Linked DNA regions of Homo sapiens. The protein of the gene in region 1 purifies or fractionates together with the protein of each later gene. This does not show direct contact. Each region holds a gene or a part of one and is shown in the gene's direction. Other genes may lie near its edges. The genes, in order: GALK1, PYGB, SEMA4B, MAT1A and GALM.

Evidence for each region.
Region 2: the proteins of GALK1 (region 1) and PYGB fractionate together in Homo sapiens (co-fractionation; one large-scale study listed by BioGRID). This does not show direct contact.
Region 3: the proteins of GALK1 (region 1) and SEMA4B fractionate together in Homo sapiens (co-fractionation; one large-scale study listed by BioGRID). This does not show direct contact.
Region 4: the proteins of GALK1 (region 1) and MAT1A fractionate together in Homo sapiens (co-fractionation; one large-scale study listed by BioGRID). This does not show direct contact.
Region 5: the proteins of GALK1 (region 1) and GALM fractionate together in Homo sapiens (co-fractionation; one large-scale study listed by BioGRID). This does not show direct contact.

Annotation. Positions count from the first base shown.
Region 1 is NC_000017.11:75,759,108-75,762,480, reverse strand, and holds part of GALK1 (galactokinase), read left to right. Parts: intron 1-3,373. UniProt on the Homo sapiens protein: Catalyzes the transfer of a phosphate from ATP to alpha-D-galactose and participates in the first committed step in the catabolism of galactose.
Region 2 is NC_000020.11:25,295,170-25,298,857, forward strand, and holds the end of PYGB (glycogen phosphorylase, brain form), read left to right. Parts: intron 1-434; coding exon 435-501; intron 502-1,200; coding exon 1,201-1,353; 3' UTR 1,354-2,843; downstream 2,844-3,688. UniProt on the Homo sapiens protein: Glycogen phosphorylase that regulates glycogen mobilization. Phosphorylase is an important allosteric enzyme in carbohydrate metabolism. Enzymes from different sources differ in their regulatory mechanisms and in their natural substrates.
Region 3 is NC_000015.10:90,214,350-90,218,823, forward strand, and holds part of SEMA4B (semaphorin-4B isoform 1 precursor), read left to right. Parts: intron 1-587; exon of another isoform or gene 588-615; intron 616-3,089; coding exon 3,090-3,253; intron 3,254-3,417; coding exon 3,418-3,480; intron 3,481-4,474. UniProt on the Homo sapiens protein: Inhibits axonal extension by providing local signals to specify territories inaccessible for growing axons.
Region 4 is NC_000010.11:80,282,885-80,287,358, reverse strand, and holds part of MAT1A (S-adenosylmethionine synthase), read left to right. Parts: intron 1-1,769; coding exon 1,770-1,847; intron 1,848-3,320; coding exon 3,321-3,443; intron 3,444-4,474. UniProt on the Homo sapiens protein: Catalyzes the formation of S-adenosylmethionine from methionine and ATP. The reaction comprises two steps that are both catalyzed by the same enzyme: formation of S-adenosylmethionine (AdoMet) and triphosphate, and subsequent hydrolysis of the triphosphate.
Region 5 is NC_000002.12:38,663,960-38,669,190, forward strand, and holds the start of GALM (galactose mutarotase), read left to right. Parts: upstream 1-2,154; 5' UTR 2,155-2,202; coding exon 2,203-2,392; intron 2,393-5,231. UniProt on the Homo sapiens protein: Mutarotase that catalyzes the interconversion of beta-D-galactose and alpha-D-galactose during galactose metabolism.

The DNA of each region.
Region 1 (3,373 bases):
TGTAGAAAAGTACAAAGTAGAAAATAATAAGCTATAAGGCCACTACCCAGAGATAGCCACTGCTGACATTTTCACGTTTCCTTTCAGTATTTTTCCACATCTGTCTTCAAAGCTGAGTATATGTAATATATCATCACTTTCCCCCCCCACCCCCTTTTTTTTAAGAGGCAGGGTCTCATTCTGTTGCCCAAGCTGGAGTGTAGTGGTGTGATCATAGCTTACTGCAAACTTGAACTCTTGAGCTCAAGGGATCCTCCCAGCTCAGCCTTCCAAGTAGCTGAGATTACAGGTGTGCCACCATGCCCGGCTAATTTTTATCTTTGTAAAGACGGTCTTGCAGTGTTGCCCAGGCTGATCCTGAACTCTGGCCTCAAGTGGTCCTCCTGCCTTGGCCTCCCAAAGTGTTGGGATTATAGGCATGAGCCACTGCGCCCAGCCCATTTGCCGTGTTTTTTTTTTGGACACAGAGTTTCGGTCTTGTCACCCATGCTGGAGTGCAATGGTGCGATCTCAGCTCACTGTAACCTCTGCCTCCCGGGTTCAAGTGATTCTCCTGCCTCAGCCTCCCGAGTAGCTGGGACTACAGGCGCCCGCCACTACGCCTGGCACATTTTTTATAGTTCTAGTAGAGACTGGGGTTTCACCATGTTGGCCAGGCTGGTCTCAAACGCCTGACCTCAGGTGATCCTCCCGCCTCAGCCTTCCAAAGTGCTGGGATTACAGGCGTGAGCCATAGTGCCGGTCTCTTTTTTTTTTTTTTTTAAACTAAACATAATCTCAGAACCCAGAACCCTATCTTATCTTATGCCATGAAAGGCATATCTCGGTGTGGCTCTTTTTTTTTTTTTTTCTTTTTTTTTTGGTGAGGTGGAGGCTTGCCCTGTTGCCCAGGCTGGAGTGCAGTGGCGCAATCTCGGCTCACTGCATCCTCCACCTCCTGGGTTCAAATGATTCTCCTGCCTTAGCTTCCTGAGTAGCTGGGATTACTGGCACCCACCACCACGCCCAGCCAATTTTTATATTTTTAGTAGAGACGGGGTTTCATGTTGGCCAGGCTGGTCTCGAACTCCTGATCTCGTGATCTGCCCGCCTCAGCCTCCCAATGTGCTAGGATTACATGTGTGAGCCACTGCACCTGGCCTCCGTGTGGCTCTTTAAAGCTCCACAATATTTTAGCATTCAGGTGCTCTGTCATTTACTTAACTATTTTCTGATACACCTCACACTGTGATTAACTTTTTTTATTTATCTTTTTTATTATTTATTTATTTATTTATTTGAGACAGAGTCTTGCTCTGTCACCCAGGCTGCAGTGCAGTGGCACGATCTCGGCTCACTGCAACCTCTGCCTCCCAGGTTCAAGTGATTCTCCTGCCTCAGCCTCCTGAGTAGCTAGGATTAGAGGCATGTGCCACCACACCTGGCTAATTTTTGTATTTTTAGTAGAGATGAGGTTTTACCATGTTGGTCGGGCTGGTCGTGAACTCCTGACCTGGTGATCTGCCCACCTCAGCCTCCCAAAGTACTGGGATGACAGGCATGAACCACTGTGCCTGGCCATCTTTTTTATTTTTTAAAGAGATGGGTTCTGCTAAGTTGCCCAGGCTGGACCTGAACTCTTGGGCTCAAGTAATCTTCTCACCTAGTCTCCTGGGTAGCTGCAACCAAAGGCACCCGGTTTATCTGCATTCTCTTTTTTTTCTTTGAGACTGAGTCTTGCTCTGTAGCCCAGGCTGGAGCGCAGTGGCGTGATCTCGGCTCACTGCAACCTCCGTCTTCAGGGTTCAAGCAATTCTCCTGCCTCAGCCTCTGGAGTGGCTGGGACTACAGGCGTGTGCCACCAGAGCGAGTTAATTTTTTTTTTTTTTTGTATTTTTAGTGGACACTGGGTTTCACTATATTGGCCAGGCTGGTCTTGGACTCCTGACCTCAAGTGATCCGCCTGCCTTGGCCTCCCAAAGTGCTGGGATTACAGGCACAGGCGTGAGCCACTACACCTGGCCTATCTGCATTCTCTTAATAGTTTCTTAGAAATGGATTCTTAGGAGTAGGATTACAGAGTCAAGAGACACAAGTATTGTAGGCTGGGTGCGGTGGCTCACGTCTGTGCCTGTAATCCCAGCACTTTAGGAGGCCAAGGTGGGCAGATTCATTGAGCTCAGGAATTCGAGACCAGCCTGGGCAACATGGCAAAACCCCATCTCTAAAGAAATACAAAAATTAGCCAGGTGTGGTGGTGTGTGCCTGTAGTCCTAGCTACTTAGGAGGCTGGGGTGGGAGGATCAATTGAGCCCAGGAGGTTGAGACTGCAGTGAGCTGTGATTGCACCATGGCACTCCAGCCTGGGCCTCAAAGTGAGATCCTGTCTCCAAAACAAAAAAGATACAAGTATCCTTAAGGCTCCTGCTACACATGGCCAGGAAGGTAGTCTATTGGACAGTTTTAAGGTCATTATCAATATTAGCTCATTTAATTCCCTCCAAAACTCTGTAAAGCACATTCTGCTACCATAGTTGTCATATTTTTGATGGGGGAATCTACAGTGAGAGGCAGTGCTGGGATCTGAACCCCATCTGGACAGATTAGCTCCAGGGCCCATGCTCTTGACTGGCTGGCCGTGCTGCCCACACTGAGTTGTTCCTTCCTGGCAGTGTAGGTGTGCCTATCTCAGGGACACTAGACAGCTCCGAGGGACCTCCCTGTCCTTTTCCTTTGTGAACTGTGTCACGTTCTCCAGAGCAGTGCTCAGACCTGCCCTGCCTGCTCTGTGCAGATGCCCTTGGCCAAGGTTTTCACACTGGAACAAGTTGGTCCCTCCTCCCCACCCCAGCCTGTCCTTGCCCCTCCTCCAGGTCTCCTTCTGCATAGGAGCAGCTCACCCTGCCTCCTCCAGAGTCCTGCCCTAGAAGCGCAATCCCTCTCCTTCCATCCCCTGCCTGGCTGCCTGGCTCCTTCCCTCAGCCTCCAAGACATGCTCAGTTTTCTTCCCTCCTAAAACACCACCCACTGTCTCATTTCCATTCATTTCTTTCTTTCTTTCTTTCTTTTTTTTTGAGAGGGAGCCTCACTCTGTCACCCAGGCTGAAGTGCAGTGGCATGATCTCCACTCACTGCAACCTCCGCCTCCCAGGTTCAAGCAATTCTCCTGCCTCAGCCTCCTGAGTAGCTGCGATTACAGGCGCCTGCCACGATGCCCGGCTAACTTTTGTATTTTTAGTAGAGACGGGGTTTCGCCATGTTGGCCAGGCTGGTCTCGAGCTCCTGACCTCAGGCAATCTGCCTGCCTCAGCTTCCCAAAGTGCTGGGATTACAGGTGTGAGCCACCGCGCCCACCCATTCATTTCTCAGTCCTTTGAATCTACTTGCCCCTCCA
Region 2 (3,688 bases), on another chromosome or scaffold:
TATTTCCTGTGTAGGCAAATCCCAGTTAGACTTAAGACGGCAAATGGAGATGCCGTTCCCCAGCAAGTGCCCCCTGCCCTGAGGCGGCGCCATGGGCTCTCCACTGTCTGCCCAGGAGGCCTCTCCCATGTGCAGCTCTAACTGCCCTGCGTGTGGAAGACACGTTTTAAATGCCAGTTTATTTAAAGGAGTGTTGGGTTGAAATAAGGTTTTTCTAAAATATTGTCCCAGGACATAAGTGTTGCTCACAGAGAAGCCCTGTGGCCAAATGGGCCTGGTGCAGCCTGGCTCTGACCAGCTGCGTGGGTGGGCCCCTTCGCTCCAGACAGGACCAGGTGGATGGTGCCTGGCCTCCTGCCCTGGGACTCTCCCCTCGGGACAGTGTGGGCAGGGCTCCCTGCTGCCCTGGCCCAGCCTCCTTTCTCCCATTCCAGGTTCAAGGTGTTTGCAGACTATGAAGCCTACATGCAGTGCCAGGCACAGGTGGACCAGCTGTACCGGGTGAGGCTCCTGGGTCCAGAGGCTAGGGGAGCAGCTGGGTGGGTCCATGTAGACGTGTTGGGTCAGATTGTTTATTTCCCAAGCTGAGTAGATTCTTGGCCTGGGCCAGAGGGGTTTGTGATTCTGATCTGTCATCAGTCGGCTGTGCCTGCCTTTAGGGAAGCTGTCACTGTCAATGTCACTCCCTCCGTTGAAAAAAACAGCTCCTAATGGCCAAGAAAGGAATGTGCGGCCTGGAAACTGAGTGACGGGCAGGGCCCTGGGAGGGACCTTCTCTTCCCTCAGTCAGGGCTGGCCTCGAGGAAAGGCTGGCCTGGTGTGACCTGCAGCTTGTGGCAGCTGTGAGGCTCCCTGGTGGAAGGAGACTGCCTGGGCATGTCCCCTGGCACTGGATCTGCCTGGGCAGTTCTTACCTGGTGCTATCCCTATCGTCGTCCTGGGGGCCATGCCCTAGCAGGAATTTTCGAGGCTGGGACCTTCTCTCCAGCTCCTTGCTCCCTAGATCTAGAATGCGGTAGCTTTCCTGGTCCGTGGGGTCCCCTTTTCAACGAACAAGTGATTGTAATGTCCTCCTCTTCCAGCGGATGGCCCCAAGGCTCGGAGCTCATTTGGAAACAGTCCTAAAGTTCTGGAATCCCATGTTTTTAGCAGCCCCAAGCCCTGTGACGCCAGAGACTAATTTCATCTCCTTCCCTGCAGAACCCCAAGGAGTGGACCAAGAAGGTCATCAGGAACATCGCCTGCTCGGGCAAGTTCTCCAGTGACCGGACCATCACGGAGTATGCACGGGAGATCTGGGGTGTGGAGCCCTCCGACCTGCAGATCCCGCCCCCCAACATCCCCCGGGACTAGGCACACCCTGCCTTGGCGGGACCAGCGGGCATTTGTTTTCTTGCTGACTTTGCACCTCCTTTTTTCCCCAAACACTTTGCCAGCCACTGGTGGTCCCTGCTTTTCTGAGTACCATGTTTCCAGGAGGGGCCATGGGGGTCAGGGTGGTTTTGAGAGAGCAGGGTAAGGAAGGAATGTGCTAGAAGTGCTCCTAGTTTCTTGTAAAGGAAGCCAGAGTTGACAGTACAAAGGGTCGTGGCCAGCCCTGCAGCTTCAGCACCTGCCCCACCCAGAGTGGGAGTCAGGTGGAGCCACCTGCTGGGCTCCCCCAGAACTTTGCACACATCTTGCTATGTATTAGCCGATGTCTTTAGTGTTGAGCCTCTGGATTCTGGGGTCTGGGCCAGTGGCCATAGTGAAGCCTGGGAATGAGTGTTACTGCAGCATCTGGGCTGCCAGCCACAGGGAAGGGCCAAGCCCCATGTAGCCCCAGTCATCCTGCCCAGCCCTGCCTCCTGGCCATGCCGGGAGGGGTCGGATCCTCTAGGCATCGCCTTCACAGCCCCCTGCCCCCTGCCCTCTGTCCTGGCTCTGCACCTGGTATATGGGTCATGGACCCAGATGGGGCTTTCCCTTTGTAGCCATCCAATGGGCATTGTGTGGGTGCTTGGAACCCGGGATGACTGAGGGGGACACTGGAGTGGGTGCTTGTGTCTGCTGTCTCAGAGGCCTTGGTCAGGATGAAGTTGGCTGACACAGCTTAGCTTGGTTTTGCTTATTCAAAAGAGAAAATAACTACACATGGAAATGAAACTAGCTGAAGCCTTTTCTTGTTTTAGCAACTGAAAATTGTACTTGGTCACTTTTGTGCTTGAGGAGGCCCATTTTCTGCCTGGCAGGGGGCAGGTCTGTGCCCTCCCGCTGACTCCTGCTGTGTCCTGAGGTGCATTTCCTGTTGTACACACAAGGGCCAGGCTCCATTCTCCCTCCCTTTCCACCAGTGCCACAGCCTCGTCTGGAAAAAGGACCAGGGGTCCCGGAGGAACCCATTTGTGCTCTGCTTGGACAGCAGGCCTGGCACTGGGAGGTGGGGGTGAGCCCCTCACAGCCTTGCCCCTCCCCAAGGCTGGCAACCTGCCTCCCATTGCCCAAGAGAGAGGGCAGGGAACAGGCTACTGTCCTTCCCTGTGGAATTGCCGAGAAATCTAGCACCTTGCATGCTGGATCTGGGCTGCGGGGAGGCTCTTTTTCTCCCTGGCCTCCAGTGCCCACCAGGAGGATCTGCGCACGGTGCACAGCCCACCAGAGCACTACAGCCTTTTATTGAGTGGGGCAAGTGCTGGGCTGTGGTCGTGCCCTGACAGCATCTTCCCCAGGCAGCGGCTCTGTGGAGGAGGCCATACTCCCCTAGTTGGCCACTGGGGCCACCACCCTGACCACCACTGTGCCCCTCATTGTTACTGCCTTGTGAGATAAAAACTGATTAAACCTTTGTGGCTGTGGTTGGCTGACATGGGGTCTGTGTTTCACTAACTAACTAACTAACTGCAGGTGGTGGTATGAGACTGTGGGAAGCAGAGAACACAGGCCTGAGGCCCAGGGTGGTGCCAGTGCAGGGATGAGACCTGCAAGTGGGCCACAGGTCCCCCGTCTGAAACTAGAGCCGGGGCTGAATTACACCCCATCATTCTGGGATTGAGGGCAGAAAAGTTTGCATCTCCACTAGGTGTGGAACCCGGGGTCATGTGTGCCTGAACGGCTAGTTTTGTTTTTTTGTTTTTGAGATGGAGTTTTGCTTTTGTTGCCCAGGCTGGAGTGCAGTGGCACGGTCTTGGCTCGCTGCAACCTCCGCCTCCTGGGTTCAAGCAATTCTCCTGCCTCAGCCTCCCGAGTAGCTGGCATTACAGGCGCCCACCACCACACCCGGCTAATTTGTGTATTTTTAGTTTTGCCATGTTGGCCAGGCTGGTCTCAAACTCCTGACCTCAGGTGATCCGCCCGCCTCAGCCTCCGAAAGTGCTGAGATTACAGTTGTGAACCACTGTTCCTGGCCAAGCTAGCTATTTTCTAAAAATTCTATCAATCAATCAAATCCAGCCATTACTAAACATGCTATCTGGGGATAAGAAACACACACACCTTTCTGGTGTGACTTGTGCTGGTCCCTTTGCACCTGCAACTTTTGTCTCCCACTCCTGGCCCTGGGGACCAAAGCATCGCCCATCAATTGTACAGTTGCAGATTAAGAAATCAGGAGAAATGAGCCTAGGGCTCTGTGCTACCCTGAAGACCCAAGAACTGGGATGCTGGAGTGCCATGGGCCTCCTTGGCCTCAGACCTGGTCGTGCAGGGGTTG
Region 3 (4,474 bases), on another chromosome or scaffold:
CTGAGCTGCTGGGCGTGGTGGCTCACGCCTGTAATCCCAGCACTTTGGGAGGCCGAGGCGGGTGGATCACATGAGGTCAGGAGTTCAAGACCAGCCTGACCAACATGGAGAAACCCCGTCTCTACTAAAAATACTTTGCCGGGCGTGGTGACATATGCCTGTAATCCCAGCTACTCAGGAGGCTGAGGCAGGAGAATCGCTTGAACCTGGGAGGCGGAGGTTGCGGTGAGCCAAGATTGTGCTATTGCACTCCAGCCTGGGCAACAACAGCAAAACACCATCTCAAAAAAAAAAAAAAAAAAAAAGGCTGAGCTTCCCCCAAATGGCTGATATGTGTTCCTCCTTATGGACATTGAGGATGGAGTAGCTTCATTTCCCATTTTTCTTTGGCCACCAGGAGGCCCAGCACTAAAGGCTCAGCCCTTCTCTACCAGCTGTGCGAAGACTCATTGACCTACTCGTGAATTTTTACTTCCTTGCTGATGGAGATGTTTTTCTTCAGATTTGGGTTTTCTCTGCTCCTGATTTTAATGTTTATATTTCACTACTTTCTTTTCTTCATGTCTCCCCACCCTTTATGGAACCAGGCTGGGGGTATGTAAAAACACTCCACAGGTAAACACACATGAAGTCATCTTCACAGCTGCTTGATTGGGCGTGTTGCACTTTTTGCTTCCTCAGCTTCGTGAGACTGTTTGTGTGGTCATAACCCACTGGTCCGCTACAACGTGCCTGAGGGTGGTCAGGGTGCTGCTCTTTGCTTGTTTTTGTGTTCTCATCAGCTGCTTAGAATTTTAAAAATAATTTCTCTCCAAACCCTTTAGTTACCCAAAGCATAAACAGTACCCTGGTGGGTAAGTGTGTGTGTGTTTCTTTTTTTTTTTCTTTGATTTATATATTTCACATTATATAAGGATAACCTGCTTATTAGAGAATCTAAAAATGATAACAAGTAAAAAAGAAAAGAAAGCTACCTGTAATTCTACCAGGGAGCCCATGTTTTAGTGTTTTGTGATACATCCTTCTGGATTTTTTTCCTATGCTTATATTTTTCCCACAAAAAATAGAATTTGACCATACATACTAAATATAACCTGAATTTTCACTTCATGGTAGATAATTCGTGTCTTTCCTTGTTGTTATTCTGCAAAAACAAAAGCTACTTAAAATGTGTACCAAGGTCTGGGCGCAGTGGCCCACACCTGTAATCCCAGCACTTCGGGAGGCTGAGGCAGGCGGATTGCTTGAAGCCAGGAGTTCGAGACCAGCCTGGCCAACATGGCAAAACCCTGTCTCTACTAAAAATACAAAAGTTAGCCGGGCATGGTGGCACATGCCTGTAATCCCAGCTACTCGGGAGGCTGAGGCAGAAGAATTGCTCGAACCTGGAAGGCGGAGGTTGCGGTGAGCCGAGATCATGCCAGTGCACTCCTGCCTGGGCAACAGAGTGAGACTCAGTCTCAAAAAATAAATAAAATTTGTATCAAGGATACATGCACGTATATATATATTTTTAAGTATAGAAGGGCTTATTATAAAAAGCAAAAACGTCTGTCCTCCCTCACCCCAGGCCAATTTAAAAGGGACTTTTAATCATTTAGGGTTCTTAGGGTTCTTGTTCTACCATTATTTCCTCCATTTTTTTTTTTTCTTTTTGAGATGGAGTTTCACTCTTGTTGCCCAGGCTGGAGTGCAATGGTGTGATCTCAGCTCACCGCAACCTCTGCATCCCAGGTTCAAGCGATTCTCCTGCCTCAGCCTCCCGAGTAGCTGGGATTACAGGCATGTGCTACTACGCCTGGCTAATTTTATATTTTTAGTAGAGACGGGATCTCTCCATGTTGGTCAGGCTGGTCTCGAACTCAGGTGATCCACACCAAAGTGCTGGGATTATAGGTGTGAGCCACCACGCCCAGCCCATTTCCTCCATATTTTTAAGTAAAATACTTACACCACTATTTCTTGGCTTATTTGAATTCCTAACTTTCCCTCACTTACATCTCCCTTCCATTCCTCCCCCCAACATATTCTGTCACCGTACTGTATTCACTTCCTTTATTGGTTACCTTTGCAATATAAAACAGTACACTTGACCTGTATTTATTATTCCATTAGCCATTGGCAGCAGCTTGTGACAACCCTGCTACCATATTATGATGTCTGTCTGTCATCAGTTCTGGTTTCTGAGGTCAAAATTGAAAACACTCCCATTCTGTGTAATAACCATCAGTCTCAAAGACCAGTGCTTTTTTGGGAGGCTGACGCGGGCAGATCACTTGAGTTCAGGAGTTTGAGACCAGCCTGGCCAACATGGTGAAACCCCGTCTCTACTAAAAATACAAAAATTAGCTGGGTGTGATGGTGCATGCCTGTAATACCAGCTACTTGGGAGGCCGAGGCAGGAGAATCACTTGAACCTAGGAGGTGGAGGTTGCAGTGAGCCAAGATCATGCCACTGCACTCCAGCCTGGGCAACAGAGCGAGACTTCGTCTCAAAAAAAAAAGAAAAGCCCATGCTCAACATTTGCATTACTCTGTCAATGCAAATAGCATTCACTGCAGGGCCCACTTAACATTTCCTTCTCTTTGGGTCTAATGTCACTCAAAGGAAAGTGTTAAATGTATTTTCCTTTCTTAATATTCTATTATGTGCTCAAAACTCATCACTTTATATTTTAGTTTGCTTGATATTTTGACCATGCCTTTCTTGCCTGTTTTTCTGGAGCTTCTAATACATCATTTTTTTTCCCAGCTGTATAGTATTCAGTTGGATTGAGGCATCATAATTTATTTTGACAAGGTCCCCTCTGGTTGGACGGACTCTTTGGTTTTCAGTTTTTTATTAATGTGAAGGGTGCCGTAGTAAGTATCCTTGTACATACATCTCTGCATCATTTCTTATGTAATGTTTGAGAGTCCAGGAATGCTGCTCGCCCATCAAACCTGATCCCCCTGCCCCCAGCCCCTTGCCATTGCCACCCTTTGCCTTGCTGATTACCTTCCTTTAAACCAGTCCATCTAAAGGTTGGTGTTAAGAGGCTTCCCATGGGAGGGGTGGCCCCAGGTAATACCCATCTTCCTCTCCCCAGGCTCTGAAGAGCGGCCATTCCTCAGATTCGAAGCTGAACACATCTCCAACTACACAGCCCTTCTGCTGAGCAGGGATGGCAGGACCCTGTACGTGGGTGCTCGAGAGGCCCTCTTTGCACTCAGTAGCAACCTCAGCTTCCTGCCAGGCGGGGAGTACCAGGAGGTGAGAGATGTTGCCTGGAGCTGGCTAGGCTGGGCAGAGGACCACAGAGGGAAGATGGACGGGAAGCTTGACCTTCTGGGTCCAAGGATGATGCCTATGGGAGAGGAGGGAGGCTCAGCAAACCCTCCATTTTGTCCACTACCTTCCCCTTTCTCATTCCCCAGCTGCTTTGGGGTGCAGACGCAGAGAAGAAACAGCAGTGCAGCTTCAAGGGCAAGGACCCACAGGTGAGCCCACACCTGGAAGGGAGCTGAGCTGCAGGAGGGATGGAGGGTGGTGGACTTCCATCCAGGCCAGAGGCGGGAGGTGGGAGCAGATACAGCCAGGTATGGTGGGAAGGGCATAAGCTTCTGAGATTACCCGGCCTGGGTTTGAATCCCAGCACTACACTTACATCGCTACGACCTTCGACAAGTAGATTCACCTGTCTAAGCCTTAGTGGGCCCACCTGTAAAATGGGGATAATGATCCGGTCTCACTGGGCTTACAGTGAGGATTCAGGAAGCTAATAGGTGTAAGGCACCTGGCTCATAGATACAAGACCTAACAAGTCAGCTTCCAGCGTGAACAGAGATTGGGTGGGGTGAGAGTTGTGTCCCTCTGCAGATGGTTCCTGATGTAGCACATCTGACAGATTCTGGTGTGGTTTTGGCCAAAGCACAGGATGAAATCTGGTTCAACCCAGGTTCTCCTGGAGGACTCATCATCATCCCTAGAGGCCTCCTGCTCCTGCTCCTAAGTGCAGCAGGTGCTGGGTAAGGTGAGGGCAAACGAGTGCTGGACTTGGGATCAAGACACAGGTTCAAGTCCTGGCTGCCATTCTGTTATTCAGCTAACATTGATGAAGCATGCACTCTGTGTCCATGTACTTTTAGGTACTGGAGATTTAATTGTGAAAAAGCAGGCTTGGCACAGTGGCTCACGCCTGTAATCCCAGCACTTCGGGAGGCTGAGGCAGGTGGATCACAAGGTCTCCACCTCATGGTCTCCTGAGTGTCTCAGGAGTTCGAGACCAGCCAGGCCAACATAGTGAAACTCCGTCTCTACTAAAAATACAAAAAACATTAGCCAGGCATGGTGGCAGGCGCCTGTAGCCCCAGCTACCTGGGAGGCTGAAGCAGGAGAATCGCTTGAACCTGGGAGGCAGAGGTTGCAGTGAGCCGAGATCTCGCCACTGCACTCCAGCCTGGATGACAGAATGAGACTGTGTTTCAAAAGAAA
Region 4 (4,474 bases), on another chromosome or scaffold:
CAACTATTGGCTATCTTAAGCCTACTAAGTGATATTGATAAAAATTTTGAAAGCCAAAACAAAAACAAAAACAATTCAGAAACAACCTCCTTGGGCATTGTCTTGTGTGTGGTGCTATCTGGAAGCCCCTGCTGGACTCCAGCTTTGTTCCTTCTCCTGTTGGATTTCCCTAGGCAGAGTGGGAGCCTGTGAGCTGTGTCTGCACAGGCAGAGACATTCACAATCAATGATCAGTCAGCAAGCTTCTAGGAACTCTGATGGGTAAGCCTAAGGTGGCCAGCATGTATTTATTTTAGGATATTTTATCAGCGAGAGGCCTTCAGTGGTAGAAGTGTGTAGAGGCTAAGGGCTCAGACAAACCTAAAGGTACTACCAGGGTCTGCCACTGGCAGGAGGCTAGATTAAACAAACAAACAAACAAACAAAACACAACCTCAAACATATGTTTAGCAGTAGTTTCTAAAGGAAAGATTAAGGAATTAATGAATATCTTTAATTACAGAATTTAACATCTGCTTTTGAGAGCCAAACTGCTTGATTCTGGATCTGGATTCTTAACAAAAACATATTACTCTATTAAGAGCAGACTGTGGGTATTTTTAACACTGAATGAGCTATAATATATGTAGATAGAGATCACTTTTATTTCTTAATTTGTAGATATTGACAGTTTGCATAACCCCAAAGCAAGAGTAGATTTTCCTACAAGCACCATTTAGTGCTTTACATTTTAGACCCTGCAGAGTCTTTAAGGCAAATAGTGGAAGAATAAAATCAAATTCCAGCTCATGTTGAACCCTTGTCAGTCCTACAGTAATTGAAGAGGTCAAGCCCAGCTCTAAGGACACCTGGCTTTCGGGAGGCTGAGTGACCATGTGGGAGATCTGAGAGCTGCTTATGGAAGTATTCTGCAAAACAACAATGATGTATAGGGGTTATCTTGTAGAATTCTTATGGGTGGAGTCATGTACTTGGGTGTGGTGTTTTATATACGGTGCATTGCATCTTGTGGAACCTGCCATGCAATGCAGCTGTTTGAGCCGTCTGATTTTACCTCTTGGCAAAGAGGTAAAATTGACTTCTTAACTATTTTTAAGTTCATTTTCAGGACTTTTGTAGATGTTAGAATTAAAGGGAACATGATGAGGAATGAGAGATTTTTTATTTAGAAGAATGCGTGTGTGTTTGTTTATGTGTGAGTTGCGTTAGACTCCTAGAAGAGCTGATTTTGACCGGGCGCAGTGGCTAACACCTGTAATCCCAGCACTTTCAGAGGCTGAGGTGGGCGGATCACTTGAGACCAGGAGTTCAAGACCAGCCTGGCCAACATGGTGAAACGCCATCTCTACTGAAAATACAAAACAAATTAGCCAGGCGTGGTAGCACAAGCCTGTAATCCTAGCTACCTGGGAGGCTGAGGTGGGAGGATTGCTTGAACCCGGGAGGTGGAGATTGCAGTGAACCGAGATCACACCACTGCACTCCAGCCTGGGTGATAGACTGACACTCCATCTCAAAAAAAAAAAAAAGGTATTTCTTTTTTAGGGCATTCTATGACTTTATATAATACGTGTCATCCAAAATTAGGCAGGAATGGAAATAAATAAAAATTTCAAAGTATTTCTAATTTCTTATACTTAAAAAAAGTGTTTTCCCTCTGGTAGATAAGTTGATATGTAAACTGAAAAGTCGATATCTAATTATTTTAAGATTTCAATTTGTTATCCCGAATATTTTTGTGATTCTGACCCATATTTGCTCTTGTCCAGATAAGATCTGTGACCAGATCAGTGATGCAGTGCTGGATGCCCATCTCAAGCAAGACCCCAATGCCAAGGTGGCCTGTGGTAAGAAACACCCGATCCCTCCCTGCTGGAGACCTAAGTGGGCTAGACTGAGAAATTAATCATGGGTATAAGACAAACGAGCCATACTCCTCAGTTCCAAAATCCATGTCCTCTGCTCTGCAGTAGATTTCTCAATTATGAGACCTCCCCTGTGTAGTAACAGGGAGGAAAAACATTTCTAACCATGAAACAAATAGATAATTATTTTTAGCAAGAATCTAACGTTAAATGTCATAGCAACCATAAATAGCAGAGGGTTGGACCAGCACATGGCCTTTCTGATGCTTGATCTCATTGGGAACAAGGAGGTCTTTCAAAGTTCTTAGGTGAATCTTCCAGACGGGATGCAAGAGCTTGAAACACAGGTAGCTGCCTAGATGGTTATAAGCTGCATCCTCATTGTAGGAGCCTTTGTTGGCTGCACAGATACCTGGCTTCTTCTCTTGTTTTCTTTCCTAGTTTGTGGTATGATTTAGGTTTTAAAATAATTAGTGTCCCCCATTTAATAGCAACAGGAAGGCAACATCTTCACCAATTGTTTTTCAATAAATCAATGGCTTTCCTAAGAGACATTAATGTTAAACTAAAGTACTGAAGCCCTGGCTCCCATCTGCATAATTTATTGTGTCTGAAGACTCATGTAGGCTGAAGATCTTCACCTTTATTTGTGGGATAAGTTGTTTGGCAGGAAAACCTTTGCCTGGCTTGAAGCCTGTGGCACAGTGGCAGAGTCATGGACTCTGGAGTCTGGAGGGGCCCCAGGGTGATCAGGTCCAGCCTGTTCATTTTAGAGACAGGATCACGGTACCCTCTGCATCAGGGCCTGGCCAAGGCCATGGGGTAGGGTGCCCCAGTGTGAAGACCAGAGCCTTGCTCTCCTTACTGTCATTGTCATGTCTTGTCCACTGCACAGACCCATCCTTCCCTCTCTGGTTGCATCCTCAGCCCTGTATTGAATACTACAGGGACTCATGCCCCTCTGAAGGTAGATTCTACCCTTATATCTTTGTAAATATCTGGAGAGAAGGTTGGCCTGCTTTGATTTTTTTTGGTCCAGATCCCACTCCCTAAAGCCTGCAGTGGAGGTTTAGCAATGTGGGGGATGGGGGGTCACATGTGTGGACTACCTTCTTTATGACAGCTACATACAACCATCATCTCCCTTTAATCCACATAGCAGTCTTATAAATAGCTTTATTAAATAGATGAGGGAACAGAGACTTAGAGGGGTTAAATAAGTTGTCCAGGATCACAGCTTATGACTGACTCTTTCCAAGACAGCATTGGAAGATGCTCAGTGCTTGGTGCTGGGATTTTTTCTTTTTATTGGCGTTTCTATTTTCCTTCTGGAATCCATTCCTCGTAAGGCCCCTCCTGTGTCTTTTCTGTCTGCACTGTGAGAGGTCTGGGAATGTGAGCTTCCCTTTGCTGGCACTTGGCTGCTAACTCTCCTCGCTCCCCGCTCCCTTTCAGAGACAGTGTGCAAGACCGGCATGGTGCTGCTGTGTGGTGAGATCACCTCAATGGCCATGGTGGACTACCAGCGGGTGGTGAGGGACACCATCAAGCACATCGGCTACGATGACTCAGCCAAGGGTGAGGGCAGGCCTCCGGGTCTGAAATCCCTGTTGCTCTCTGCTGATAGAGACCCCAGTGCTGAGTCAAACCCGTGCCTTTCAGCCCGATGGGAGCATCAATACTACCAGGAGGAAAACACTCCTACACTTGTCTGTCAGGTTCCAGGGGTCAAAGACTCTGGCATAAGGATGGCCAACAGGCGACTATGCCCAGTGGGCCCAGCACATGCCCATCTGTTGTTGATTGGGCTTGTTTTAGGCCTTGCCTTCTTGGCGCTGCCAAAGGCTTTGGAAGAGAAAGATGCACTGAATAAAGGGGGCTGCCCTCCTTTGGGGACATGCTCGCTGCCAGGCACTGGTGATAGTCTCTTGTGTTGTCTTAATCATTTATGTACTTATGCAGACGAGGAAATGGAGGCCTAGAGGGGTAAACAGTCTGTGTGAGATCACAGGGTAAGCAGCCACTAGGCTGAGGACTCCTGTGCTTCCACTAAACCTACTTGCAATCATAGACATGGAGCAAGATGACTCAGTCCAGAACTGGTGCTGACAGCAGGCGAGGCTGGTCCAGGTTAGCACCAGTGCTACATAGTGTGGGGCCACCACCCAGGGAAGGGGCACAGGCCCTAGCAGAACTTTGAAGCAGATTCCAACATCTGAGACTGAGCAGGCCAGGCAGCGGCACAGCCTGGAGGGCAGCAAAGGACCCAGAGAGCAGACACCAGGTGCGGAGGGCCTGTATGCGATCACATTCTGCAGGAGCTTCAGGGGCCCTTTGTCCATGCTGGCTTCCTGGGCAGGGCTCTGGCCCCAATTCTTAGAGTCTCCACGTTGGTCTCTGGCATTAGATGTTCAGGCAATTCTAATTTTTAAAGAAAAATTCATTTTGGGTCTCTGTTAGCTCTTTCCCTAATTCTCTGAAATCACTGTGAGAGATGTGATGACCTCACGCCATGGCAAAAAGACCCACTTCCAGGTCATCCTGCCTAGCTATACACCTGTAATCAAGATGCACAGAGAGAAGCATGACTTTAAAGGTGTTCATTTCTG
Region 5 (5,231 bases), on another chromosome or scaffold:
ACTTTTCTAAGACATCCTTGCTAACACAGCATTGCCAAAGGGCTTGCGTGTGAATCACCACAAAGTTAAGTGGCTGATGAAACTGAGAGTTTATGAGAATTTCTGATGAAGCAGCACATAGGAGTGCCTGTCGGTTATTGTATGAGTGTGATGCAGTCTATAATTTGACTTGTTTGGGTCTTTTTATTATTATACGTTGAGCTTCACTGAAGCCTGTTGCAAGCTTTTTTATTTTTCCTTTGCTATCAGAATTCTTCTGCTTCATGATGGAGAATTGAGGCTTTATGGCAAGAATGCTAAATATACCTTAAATTACAGACAGAAGAAGCTGAGAGATAGTTATTATGTTTTATTAGCATCTGATTCCAGGCACATAATCCCAATTCTCATAATTTCCTAATCAAAGATGCATTTCATTTCTGCACTCACCCCAGTCTAGTTGGATACCCTCTGAAGTACCCAGGAACCAAGCCAAGAGCAGTATCAAGAAAAGATAGATGATTATGCAGATGGCTTGAGTAAAACTTGTCTTTAGGCTCCCAGCATCCTCCCACTTCCTAGGCTCAGTACTCCTCTAAAGTTGCCAGACTTAGCAAGGAAGTACATAGGTGCCTGTATGTTATCTCATTAAGGCCCTTAATAGCTTTATCTTAATCCTTCTGCCATCAGAGCCTATTTTTTTGGGGAAAAAAATTCAGATTACTCATCAAGCCTTAGAGCAATATTTCTCTAAATCTGGTCCCAGATAATCTGCAGAAGAATAACTTGGGAACATGAAAAATGCAGATTCCTGAGTTTCACCCTAGACTTCCAGAATTAGAAATTCCAGAGGTGGGGACTGGGAATATGCATTTTAAATGTCCTCAGCAAATTCTGAGACACAATCAAGCAAGACAATTATTTAATAACCTTAGTGTCTTTCCTCTCCAACTGTACATACCTGAAGACTCCATCCTACTTGTAGAAAAGGAGATAACAAAGGTTCAGTACCTGGCATTTACAAGGACCTCAATCAATACTTGTTCCCTGAATCCCTTCTTAAAGGAACTGTGGACTTCAGGAGCCAGAAGACACCAGAGGTCCCTTTCCAGTCCCTTGAAGTAAAATAAGTCTGAGGCTGTCTCTAATCACCTCCGCACACCGAGGGCCTAATCCATCTACCTGACCCTGTCTGGTCCAAGCTCCTCGAGGCTGGCACAGCTTTGGCCGTCAGGAGAGCCTTCTGGGCAGTGGCTCTAACAGAACCATGTCCAGGACTTCATCCGTGGGACAAAAAGAGTGAATCTTCAGTAAGTCTGTGTGCAGAGAAGCCTGAGATGATTTACCTCATTTCTAAGCTACTACTGTACTTTGTTGTTGTTGTTGTTGTTGTTTTGAGACGGAGTCTCGCTCTGTCACTCAGGCTGGAGTGCAGTGGCGTGATCTCGGCTCACTGCAAGCTCCGCCTCACGGGTTCACGCCATTCTCCTGCCTCAGCCTCCCGAGTAGCTGGGACTACAGGCCCCCACCACCACTCCCAGCTAATTTTTTTTTTTTTTTTTTTTTTTTTTTTTTTTTGTATTTTTAGTAGAGGCGGGGTTTCACCGTGTTAGCCAGGAAGGTCTCAATCTCCTGACCTCGTGATCCGCCTGCCTCGGTCTCCCAAAGTGCTGGGATTACAGGCGTGAGCCACCGAGCCGGCCAACTACTGCTGTACTTCTTACCCCCTGTATCAAAGAGTTAAAATCTAATTTTTTCCCAAGATCGGTCTCACTGTAAGTCTGCTATCTGTATTTTCCCATTCTTCGTCTGATAGCCACCGACATTAATGACCAGCTCATTACATGTTGAGGTGTGGGGAGATGGGGGTAGAACCCCGTCAACCCAGGATTCGAGTTTAGAAAGACTACAAGCCCCAAAATGCAATTTCACCTCCCAAAAACTACCATTCCCAACATGCAATGCAACCAGGACGAGCCAAGGAAAAAAAGTACAAGTGTGGCTGCAAAGTTTGCCCCTCTTGTTACCCTCAGGCAAATGATTGATTTAGAAAGGCCCCAGGGGCTATTTTTTGCAGGAACGGTCACTCCCTAAATCCAGGCAGGGAAAGGGAGGAGTCTGAGCCGAGTCACGCCCCTTCTCCTGTAAACTTGGGTCGCCTCTAGCTTAGCGAGCGCTGGAGTTTGAAGAGCGGGCAGTGGCTGCACACGCCAAACTTTCCCTATGGCTTCGGTGACCAGGGCCGTGTTTGGAGAGCTGCCCTCGGGAGGAGGGACAGTGGAGAAGTTCCAGCTGCAGTCAGACCTCTTGAGAGTGGACATCATCTCCTGGGGCTGCACGATCACAGCCCTAGAGGTCAAAGACAGGCAGGGGAGAGCCTCGGACGTGGTGCTTGGCTTCGCCGAGTTGGAAGGTGGGTTGAACTGTGCCCTGGGCTGCGAGCAGGCCCCAGGCCCACGCTACATACCTCCCGGATCTAGCGGGCCACTTGCAATGCGAGGGACCAAGGGGGAAAGTCGCCTAGCTTGGGACCGTCTGACTTGCAAGCGCATGCATCATAGAGGGCCGTGTGGCCATCCAGCATTTGGGAAAAACTGTAATAAATAAACTATGGCAGTTGGCCTCTGGTTATCCGTTCAGGCTTTGCCCCAGTTAACGTAAAAGGTCAGCTGATGGTATGATACACTTCAGCGATCCTGGAGCGATCTTTGAACTGCCTAATCTTTGAACTGCCTGATACCTGGAGAAGGCTGGAGAGGAAAGAGCAGGCAAGAGGGGGTGTGGCTCCCACTTCTTCCCTTCTGAAGAAGGAAATTCAAATACTTGCCTCTTCTACTTCCTTCTTCCTTGATCAGATTCTCTTTGAGGCCTGGTTGTCTCAGAAATGCTCCACTAAGCTCAGTGGTTGCCTAGTACACCAGCTACCCAATAACCATTTAGGAACAAAATAGAGAAGACCAACTCAGTGTCTTCTCAGAGATCAGGTCTCCTACCAACTAGGATGGACTTTTATCCCAGAATCCATGGGCAATTAGGATCAGGCATTAATTAATACATTTGACAACTCTATTAATCCGATGACCTCATTAAACAGGACAGACAAGGTCCCCACTCTTGCGGTTTGGCTGGGGAGATAGACTTTAACTCAGTAATTGCATAAATAAAGAATGACAATTGCAGCTTGATTGCAGCAAAGGAAAATGTACATCATGCTCTCTTAGCACCATGGTGTAACTAGACAGAAAATGAGGTGTGAAATAAAGCTGGCAAAGGGAAACTGAGAGTTAATACTCTCTGCTCAGTGGTTGGGGCGTAGACAAATTCTGCTGGAGAGGAGGTTTGAGGTTTTCCTTTTGGTGTGTCATTCTGTCTGTTTGGTTCTTCCGATACGTAAGATATGTAACTTGGCTCATGGTTACATGTTGGCCAGACCAGCCTGGCCAGCATGGTGAAACCCTGTCTCTACTAAAAATACAAAAAAATTAGCTGAGCATGGTGGCACGTGCCTGTAATCCCAGCTAGTCAGGAGGCTGAGGCAGGAGAATAGCTTGAACCCAGGAGGCGGAGGTTGCAGTGAGCCAAGATTGCGCCACTGCACTCCAGCGTGGGTGGCAGAGCGAAACTCTATCTTAAAAAACAGAGAGCAAATTTCAATTCCTCAGGGAAAAAAACAAAACTCAGCTTTCTGTTGAACACCACCATGCCCGGCTAATTTTTTTGTGTTTTTGGTAGAGATGGGGTTTCACCATGTTGGCCAGGCTGCTGGCGGGCACCTGTAATCCCAGCTACTTGGGAGGCTGAGGCAGGAGAATCACTTGAATCTGGGAGGCGGAAGTTGCAGTGAGCCGAGATTGCGCCACTGCACTCCAGCCTGGGCGACAGAGTGAGACCCCATCTCAAAAAAATAAAAATATACTCTAACCTTTCCCTCTGCCTTTCTGTGTAACAGCTGACCATAAAGAAATTAAGACCCTCATTCCAGAGGGGTCCTGCCCCATACCCGGAGGAAGAAATGCTGCATGGGGAGGCCAAGAAAAATCTGAACACAGGCCTTGCCGAGTTTCCCCACTCACTCTATTAGCAACAGATCTTACCCTTTTGGTCCAATCATATTTCTACATGGCTGTCCATGTTCCATTGGACCTAAGCATAGAAATGGATTGTTTTCCTTGTATCTGTCGGTCTTCATTCTGAAAGCTCCCGTGTCACATAAAACTATAATCAAATAAATTTGTTTGGCTTTTTTATGTATTTTTTATTTTTTAGAGGTGGAGTCTCGCTCTGTCACCCAGGCTAGAGTGGAGTAGTGCAATTATAGCTGACTTGCAGCCTCGAACTACTGGCCTCAAGCAATCCTCCCACTTCAGCCTCCCAAAGTGCTGGGATTACAGACATGAGCCACTGTGCCCAGCTGTTTTGCTTTTCTCTTGTTACCCTGTGTTTGTTGTAGAGGTGTGGGCTGTGACTCTTACAGGGGAGATATACAACACTCTGTTACTATTTTGATGGTGCTCTGATACTACATTTCTAGTGCATTAAAACCTATGTTAACAATAAACTGGTAACAGTGGTTGTTAAGAAAGGATCCTGGGTGCCCAGGGTGCAGAGGATGGGAAGGAGACTTAATTTTCACTGCATATTCTTTTAAACCATCAGAGTATGTAAGTATATATAAACAAACAGAGGTAAATAATTTAAAGTAATAAGACTTGACAGAGGCCGGCATGGTGGCTCACACCTGTAATCCTAGGAGTCCAAAGTGGGAGGATCGCTTGAGGCCAGGAGTTTGAGACCAGCCTGAGCAACATAGTGAGACCCTGTCTCTAAAATAAATAAAAATAAATAAATAAATAAATAAATTTAAATTTAAAAAAAATTTTTTTAAATACTTGACAGAATAAGGGGTTATCTTGACATTACCATATCCCAAAAATGGTTTTGAGCCATGCGGAAGATCTGAGCGTGGATAATTCCATGAGACATGGTCCTTTTGTAACTGCAGAGTTAGATATGAACAATCTTCAATTTCCCAGACAGGTTATATAAACTGTTTGGATGACAGCCATAACCAGAGGTCAGAATGGTTCAGTTTCTCCCTGGGAAAATGGGATTTTTTTCTTTCATAGAATTCTAAAGAAGAAAATTATATAAATTTTTAGTTACAGTAAGAGAGGAGACCACCCCTCATATTGCCTTATGCCCAATTTCTGCCTCCAAAGAAAGAAGTAAAAACTAAAAGGCAGAAACGAAAT